Regions from separate parts of the Homo sapiens genome. Here region 1 is reported to be linked to region 2. The links are microRNA targets in miRTarBase. Many come from high-throughput screens and were not tested one by one. Region 2 holds a microRNA gene; the other region holds the end of a gene's coding sequence.
What was found. The annotated mature microRNA hsa-miR-4449 reads CGUCCCGGGGCUGCGCGAGGCA and lies in region 2 at 1,490-1,511, shown strand. An mRNA with a match to its seed (bases 2 to 7 or 8) in the 3' UTR can be bound and repressed. Matches are read on the target gene's strand: a 7mer-m8 pairs with bases 2 to 8, a 7mer-A1 pairs with bases 2 to 7 and ends in A, and an 8mer does both.

Region 1 (4,389 bases), not on the chromosome of region 2:
AATTTTTGTTTCCTTTATTATATCTTCTTTTTCTTCATAATATTTTCCCAATTTTTATGCAGTGTATACAACTGTTTCTTTTAATAAAAAGTTTTTTTCTTTTTCAAAGCAAAGAGCCACATCAAGTTTTATCACCAAGCACTGGTAACATCCAACAAAAATAAGCAGTAAGTCAAATGTAATGATTCCCAAAAGGAGATCATGGTTGTAAACAAAGAGTTTTAAGAGAGGATAACACTTGCCTGATCCTGGGGGTTATGCGATTCTGACATTTATCTTATGGTCACTGGAGTGGCTTCTGGAAGTCTTTGATGCGGTTCATCCACCTAACACAATTTTAGATAATCATGTTTTTCAGAGGAGTAGAGGTAAGATCAAAGAGCCAAGATCCAGTCATTCTCAGAGATTTCTTAGTATTGAGGATGCCCAAGTTTCACTTTGGATGCACTCCCAGGACATTTGTAAACGGGATAAGATTTCTCAGGCTCTTCAAATAACAGGGTTCTGCTTGGATCAGGAACACCTGTGAAGCAAATTCAACAGTATTTGGACTTACTACTTTTTGTTTCCAATGAAAAGGAACTCTATATTAAATGAAATCTATAAACATGTTCTAGGCAGTTAATAGGGAAGTTGAGTAAGCACTTTAAAAATAAATTTTCATTGCTTGAAACAGTGAGAAAAGGAAAAAAAAAATCACTTAAAATTAACTCAAACAGGCCGGGCATGGTGGCTCAGGCCTGTAATCCCACCACTTTGGGAGGCCGAGGCGGGCGCATCACAAGGTCAAGGAGATCGAGATCATCCTGGCTAACACGGTGAAACCCCGTCTCTACTAAAAATACAAAAAAACTAGCCAGGCATGGTGGCGGGCGCATGTAGTCCCAGCTACTCAGGAGGCTGAGGCAGGAGAATGGTGTGAACATGGGAGGCGGAGCTTGGAGTGAGCAGAGATCGTGCCACTGCACTCCAGCCTGGGCGACAGAGCAAGACTCTGTCTCAAAAACAAAACAAAATTAACTCAAACATATTTGGTTTAAAGGAGTTAAGCTAACTTGACTAAATACGTTTTTGGCTGAAAGACAAAATGAAAACAAATTGTGTCTATTCTGCTTTTCTAGACAACAGGGCATCAGATTTAAAATCCCAGAGGGAAAACAAACTAACCTGACAGGTCAAAGAAAGTATTCAAAGCTCCCATCTGCCCAGAACTAGGAGGTATGTAAACTCTTTTCAGTGACTGTTAAGGATAGTGTACCTTAGTCCTTTGAGCTTTACCATGAGTCCCTACAGAAGATGTGAAGGTCATTTCTAAAGAATTTAAGAAATATACTTACTGATCCATTAAAGGTTAGGAAAAGCTAGAAATAAGTCCTTTCTTTCAGGAGTAGAGAAGAGTCTTATTAAAAACCACCGGCTTGACTTTCATTAGCTTTCTTGTGTTATACAATTTCTGCTTTTTGTTACTAAACAAAAGACTAAAGCCTAGTTAGGATGAAAAGTGAACTAAACAATAACCGTGCTAATAATAAAAAATGTAACTAACTTTGAGGATTTATTGTATGACAGGCAGGGTTCTAAGTATTTTCATTTAACTTAACCCTAAAAAAAAAAAACCCTCTATGAAGTTGATACTATTTATTGTCCCCACTTAACAAATCAGGATACAGAGGCACACAGAGATAAGGCAACTTGCCCAAGGACACAAGTTAATAAAGAGGTAGAGCCAGTTTTGAACCCAAGCAGCTGAACGCCAGAAATTGCCTCCAGAGAAGGCAGCTGAGTGATGCTACTTACCATTTTTGGTTATTGTGAAAGAGACTTTTTTTGTTCTCTATATTCAATGATTAGTCACCTGGGACATGTGATGATTCAACCAAATTAATAAGCTCAGGTCTGAAACTTACATGCCAAGTAAGTTAATCTCCCACTGGAGTCAGGGAGGGTTGTTAAGGAAAAGAGATTCATTTTAAGGGATGAATCTTTTCTACCTGTCAAGCAATTTTGAACACAGATGAGCTCAGATGCTGAATTCCTCTCCCAAGTGAGGGTCTCACAGGCCTAAGAACTGCTAGTGATGATTCTCCAGCCAAGAGGCCTTGCAGAATTCAGGAACATTAAGGTGATTCTAGTACTTCTCATAAACATGAGTTAGAAAACCTAAGATATTGGCCAGGCATGGTGGCTCATACCTGTAATCCCAGCACTTTGGGAGGCGGAGGCAGGAGGATCACCTGAGGTTGGGAGTTCAAGACCAGCCTGGCCAACATGGAGAAACCCCATCTCTACTAAAAATACAGAATTAGCCGGGGTGATGGCACATGCCTGTAATCCCAGCTACTGAGGAGGCTGAGGTAGGAGCATCGCTTGAACCCTGGAGGTAGAGGTTGTGGTGAGCCAAGATCGTGCCGTTGCACTGCAGTCTGGGCAACAAGAGAGAAACTCTGTCTCAAAAAAAAGAAAAAAATAGAAAAAGAAAGAAAACCTAGGATATCCTCAGGCATCTTTTGACCCCTAAGTAAGGGTCAAATAAATCCTCTAAAGGCTGCCCCAAACCTTTAGGAGGGAGATTATCACATTCTTCATCCACTTAGTAAGCATATGCAATTACTAGCTGTGTGACTTAGACATGCTACAAGACCTCTAGGCCTAGGTTGGCTCATGAGTAAAACAGGGGCATCTTATCTATCTGGCCTGCCAGGAGGCAAGAGGTAGATCAGATGATCTTTTGAGAACACTTCAAGCTCTAAACTAAAAATGAAGGCAAAAGGGAAGACTGGGGAAGGAGGCACTTTTCAACTATTTGCTCATCAAAAGCCAGAGTCCTACCTGCTTTGTTAATTCTTGCAGTAAATACTCCTTCAGGTGGTAAAGTCAAGCAGTTCACCTGGAGAGGGCTGCTTTGCTCCTCACAGAGCTTCAACCAGGCCAACTACTAAAGAGTTAATTCACATAGTATTTAATAATAAAGAGGAACAAACAAAATAAGAAAAATTAGTTGTTTCAGTATTACCAGAGGAGATTTTTTTGAACTACACAAGGAGAATGGTATCTTCAATCTATTCTTGACTACAAGTCTCATTAATGAAGAACTATGGAAAAGAATAAGACATGCATTCATTTTATGGCAAACTACATATTGCTATCTACCTTTAGTTCAGAACATTTACATGCAGTATTTTTAATATTAAAATTAAAATGTATGATAAATGCATGTTTACAGGACTAAATTAGCTATTGTTTGCAGTAAAGCCTTTGTAAATGGAATTTCACGTTGAAATCTTAGTCTTCTGTCCCCAACTCCTTCTTTCCCTAGCTCCTCTCGTTTTCTTTCTAACACTGAAATGTGGGGGAGAAAAATGAAAAGTGCACATCAGAAGAGAGTCACTTGCTGCTTTGGTTTTACTTTCCCATTTCTTTTTACTTTCTGTTTTTGGCTTTTAAAACAAGCCTCTTCTCCACCCACTCCCACCCTCTTTGCAGAGAGCAGACTTCAAACTTCACTTCTGTTTCTAGGTCCTAAAGAGAAACAAGAGGGGGGCGGGGAACAGAAAAGAGATCAATTGAGAGTTATTCCAAAATGCAAATTAACAACAGGTTTTCTCATTTCAAAACTCCCACATTCTGCCAATCTGAAAATATCTTTTCTCCACCTCTTCTGAATGACTTAGGTCCCCAGACAGCGAAGGAATTCAAGCCACAAAGGAGGTATTATGCTGCTTACAGTTCTTAATCTGCCTCCCCGAAGCGCTGCACCAGCCTCTCAAAAGGTTCCTTCTGTAGGTTAATTGCAGGTTGGAGCTCCCAGAATAGCATTTTCTTTTAAGGATGATCGCTCATCCACCATCCCGGAACATTTCTCGAGCTACTCATTAGAGTTTAATTTCCTCGAGCCAAGTCCCTGGAGACGGTGAAACCCTCCTCCCCGCGGCGTGGACGCGGGATGCCCCTGTTCGTGCCTGGAGAGCCCGGGATTCAGCAGGGCCCCAGCGTTCCCCAGGCTGTCCCTCTCTACTGCTGCGAAAAGTGAGCGCGGTCACGAAGTGCTCCTCAGTCCTCGTGGTCATGCGACCCTTGGCCCAGGAGGTCTGCAACACTTCTTGTGTTACCTGATAATCCTCCACCCGCACAAGCACGTATTTGGGTGGGTCTGCTGCGTCCCGCGGCGGGGCTACACGCCTGCCAGAAATTCGCTTTTGTCGTTGAAAGACAGAAGGGTAGTTGGGCTCCTCGCCGTGGTCCTCTCCACCCGCATGAGGAAGGTCCTCTGCACCGGCCACCTCTTCCCGTGCAGGGTCCCCTCGAGTCCCTAACCACCTCTCTGGGTGCAGGAGAAAGAGCACTTTCTCTCTGACCCAGGACTCACGGTCCAATTCCTCCCCGGCCCGA
Region 2 (4,389 bases):
ACAGAGCGAGACTCCATCTCAAAAACAAAACAAAACAAAAAAACTCTTCCAGGGTTTCCTGCATGGTCTGGCCCCAAGCCATTCTCATCTCAGGCCACTCTGCTCCTTAAGTTCCATTTCTGGGAGTCCTTAAACAGGTAAAGCCCTTTCCTGTTTTATCTTGGGGCTCTGGACGAGTTGTTCTTTCTGTTTACAAAGCCACACCCCACCAGAGCTGCCTGTCTTGATCTGTTAACCAAGTGTAGGCTATTTTTTGGTTTCCCTTCCTGCTCCACCCCCAACACCTGGGGAAAGGCTAGGTAGCATGTTGTTTGAGGGGCTCTGCCTTCAGGCTGCTTGAGTTCAAATCCTGGATCTACCACTGGCTAGCTGCTCTGTGACTTTGGGCAAGTTACATAACATAATTATTTCCCCATCTATAATTTGGAGATGATTAAATATATTTTGAGGATTAGATTTGTTAGCAGATGGTAAGTACGTGAAACAGCAATAGAAGTTCTCCTTTTAGCATATACTCCAATTTTCTTCTACTTATTTGTTTGCCAAGTTTGAGCCTGTTACCTTGAGATTGCTATGGTTGCCTTCTCAACCTCCCCAACTCCTACCCTCCAGCTGATTATGGTCTACTTATTGGACTCTGTAAATGAATAAAGAGGGAGCATGAGGAAAGGAGGTAGTCCTTCTAGCTTTAGGAGAGGCCACGGGAGTGAGCTTGTTGAACAAGACATGGTCGTGGCTTCTCTTTAAGCTTACGGTTTAGGCGGACACAGATGATGAACACACACCGGATTAGTGTGGCTTTAAGAAAGGGAATCCCAGGGCCTTAGGCCAACCCTGGAGTAACCTCGATGCCCTCTCCAGAAGGGCACCCGAGGAAGGGTCTAGGGCCCAAGAGCACCAAAATCACCAACGCCGGGGATTGGTAGGTAGCCTGAAAAATCTAATTCAGAGAAGGATGCTCCGCGCGCAGACATGGCTTATCCCCGTGCTACTGCATGAGCCACACCTAGGCCGGCCCCGGACACCGACAGCCAATGGCCGGGCCCGTCCCGCCCCATCCGGGATTGGCTGTGCGTGCCGCGGCCCTCCACCCCGCCCCGCTCAGGATCTTCCCGGGATTGGCTGAGCTACCCGACCTCTCCAGGGGATCGGCTGCGCGCCCCGCCCTTGCCCAGAGTCTTCCCGGGATTGGCTGCGGGCCTCGCGACCCTCCTGCTTCCCTCCCCGCCCCGCGCCGCCTCTCTGGTTTGTGCGCCCGTCGCAGGTCGCAGGCCTCTTTGTCAGCTGGAGTTGCGCGGTGAGTGCATCTCCAGTCTTCGGCTTTCGGTCTCCCGCGGGGAGGGCGCCCGGCCGGCCCGTGGGTCCGATCAGGGGCTGGGCTCGCCCGGTGTCCCCACGAGCTTTGCCCGCCTCGAGCTCCTCTGCTCCCGGCGGCCAGAACGGAGGGGTAGAGCAGCCCTCGGCGGCCCGGGGGGCGGGCGGCGGTGCCCGTCCCGGGGCTGCGCGAGGCACAGGCGCCGCGCCCAGCGGAACAGCCGGAGGTTCCCGGCGCAGGTCTGGGCACCGTAACAATTTTGCGCTTTGCTTCCCCAGGGCTGACGCGCCACTATGTAGCGGGTTTCGGGCGGGCCACGCGTGCGGGACAGGAACCCAACCCCAGCCGACCTTGAGCTCCAGGAGTTCGTCTCTTACGTCTGCGGAAGTGCAGCTGCCTCAGTTCTTAGCGCAGGTATGTTCCTAGCCTTGAGCGGGGTGGGGGAAGGAATGAGTCAGCCTGGAGCACGTGGCCAGTGGGACCGGAGGGTTCCCCGGCGTCTGTTTGTCGCCAAGGTCCGAATCCGGCTCCCCTTAACTGGAAGGAAACATCCATGTAGGGGCTCACCAAACAAAACAGCTGTGTTTCTAGTGTGGTTTCAGACTTAGAGAAGCAGAGATCCACGAGGTATTGAGAGCAACGCGGAAAATAGTAGTGAACCCTGTAAAAATCAAAGAAAAAAAATCACAAAGCACCCTTTCCTGTGCCCTTTTAAGGTTGACCCAGTGCTTTAAGAGGCTAACACAGAAGGGTAAAGTAAGTCTCCATAAAACCCAGAGAAGAGACTGGAAAGCTCCTCTTTGGATCCTGTCTGGAGTCACAACTGAACCAGAAAAAGTTTCGTTACAACTTGAGCGCCTTTGTGATTTTCTTTACAGTTTATAGAACAAGCAATACATTTCAGTTTTCTTTGGTTAAAACGTCATTTTAAAACTTTTCTTTCTATAGGTTGACAACTACAGGCACAAGCCATTGAAGCTGGAATGTCCTGTTGCTGGTATTTCAATTGACTTAAGCCAACTATCCCTTCAGTTACAATAGGAAAGTGCCTCTAATAAGGCCAAATATGCGTACTAACTTGTAGCAACCACGTGTCCGTGCAGTGCCACAGGAGCTAGAGCAGTGACAATGCTGGTGGCAACAGGGCAGTGTAGCAGGTGCTTCATGTTCACCTTTTCAACCTTTTCATTTAATTGTCACAACTCGGAGGTGGATTCTGTTAGGGACAGGCTGCCCCAGGACCACTCCGCCCCCGCTAACTCAATGCAGCTGACCCTTACCCTGAATACTCTGCAGCTGCATTCCTGAACCGTTATCTAGGCGCTATAGCAAGGTCACCAGACTTGCTACACCGAAGCCCTCTGGGTGGCACGGGGGAGGTCATGAGAAACGTGGATTACACCCCCTTGTAAATTCCTATTTTCACAAGATAATATATTGTAAGCCGGTCATGAGATTATATGTGGTAAAGTTAATTGACTAACAACCCCAGGGTCTCTCTCCCCCATATAAACCCCTCATTTTGTAAGCTCAGGGCTGCCACCTCCGACTGGTGGAGAAGCCTGGCAGGTTAATAAACTTACTTGGCCTGACCTTGGGTCTCTTGTCTTTTCTCTCGGCTAACCTTACAGATTCTATTCTCCCATTTCACAGGTAAAGAAATGGATTAGTGATAACTCAAGTTTCATCACCTGTGAGTATCTCTGAATGAGAGGCTTCACATGTATAACTTTTAGGCAATGTGACTTCTGGAAAGTCACTTGTCTCTTGAGATTTGGTGTCCTGGTGTAACAGTTAAGAATTATTTCAACCAAACTAGGAAAGGACCACAGTCGAGCTGTTAAGAATATAAACTCTTCATATTATTTCATTGCATTGAGCCTAAGAAGGTTCACAAAATTTGGCACAGAAGGAGTATCTGTCAGCATATTCTGTTTTTTTGTGTGTGTCTATGTAGCAAGTATTAATATTTATCTTGGAGTCATTCTTAATTCATAGCATTGTTCTTACCTTTTTATCTAAACTTTTATGTTCCATATTGTAAAGTCTAGCCTCATAAATTTAGGTAATTGCTCACAAGTTTGGATAATGTTGAATTGTAATCCCGATGTTAGAGGAGGGGCCTGGTGGGACGTGATTGGATGAAAAGGGTGGATTTCCCTCTTGCTGTTCCTTGTGATAGTGAGTTCTCATGAGATCTGGTTGTTTAGATGTGTAGTGTGGCTGGGGCAGTGGCTCATGCCTGTAATCCCAGCACTTGGGAAGGCCAAGGCAGGGGGATCACTTGAGGTCAGGAGTTAAGACTATCTTGGGCAACATAGTAAGACCTCGTCTCTACAAAAAATGAGGCAGAAGGATTGCTTGAGCCCAAGAGGTTGAGACTGCACTGAGCCATGATCTTGTCACCGTGCTCCAGCCTGAAAAGAAAAATTAATAAAAATAAAGGTTATGCAATTGTGCACATGTTATCTCAAGGCAGAGGCAGAAGAATGGCAGAGTTTAGATTAAAAGTGTGGCACCTCCCCTTCCTCCTACTCTGGCCATGTGCTTCCTGTTAGACATACCCCATGATTGTAAGTTTCCTGAAGCCTCAGCAGCCATGCTCCCTGTGCAGCCTGCTGAACCATGAGACAAACCTTTTCTTTATAAATTACCCAGTCTCAGTTCTTTATAGCAATGTGAGAACAGACTAGTACAAAAAATACATTCAACTAATGTGTTAGCTGGCTATAATTGCTAAGGGGGTAAGGAAAGGGAGATGACTTAACATGGCCGGCAAGGGAGGCCTCACTCAACATGAAAGAGCTGAGGGAGATGCCATGGCCTTATCTATAGTTGAGGGAAGAGCATTCTAGGCAGAGGGAAAACTAGTGCAAAGGCCCTGAGGATAGTTGTGTTTAAAGGTTTGGAGAAGCAGTGAAGCTGTAGAGAAGTGCCCTTAAGGAGCGGAGGACTTTATGTCTGTAGTAGTGGAAAGTTGGTTATTTTCAAACTATGGTAAAATGGCAACGTGCTCTGGCCTGCGGGGCTCTGAATGTTTTAATTTAATTGGAATGCTCCCTATTGCCTTATAC

Region 1: the mRNA of C6orf141 is a reported target of hsa-miR-4449. The part of its 3' UTR that is shown has no 7-base or 8-base seed match.

What each region holds. Positions count from the first base shown.
Region 1 is chr6:49,551,011-49,555,399 of GRCh38, reverse strand. It overlaps C6orf141 (chromosome 6 open reading frame 141), which reads right to left. Exons shown (of 1, transcript NM_001145652.2): 1 at 3,305-4,389. The coding sequence ends at 3,873. Among named protein-coding and RNA genes, the nearest start is that of C6orf141, 2.5 kb to the right of the region's middle. RefSeq lists enhancers at 3,412-3,931, 3,948-4,017.
Region 2 is chr4:52,711,231-52,715,619 of GRCh38, forward strand. MIR4449 (microRNA 4449) reads left to right here and starts at 1,452; the gene lies at 1,452-1,517. It overlaps DANCR (differentiation antagonizing non-protein coding RNA), which reads left to right and starts at 1,164. Exons shown (of 5, transcript NR_145129.1): 1 at 1,164-1,297; 2 at 1,594-1,729; 3 at 2,264-2,312; 4 at 2,969-3,008. SNORA26 (small nucleolar RNA, H/ACA box 26) reads left to right here and starts at 2,019; the gene lies at 2,019-2,140. RefSeq lists silencers at 970-1,803, 978-1,547 and an enhancer at 1,798-1,847.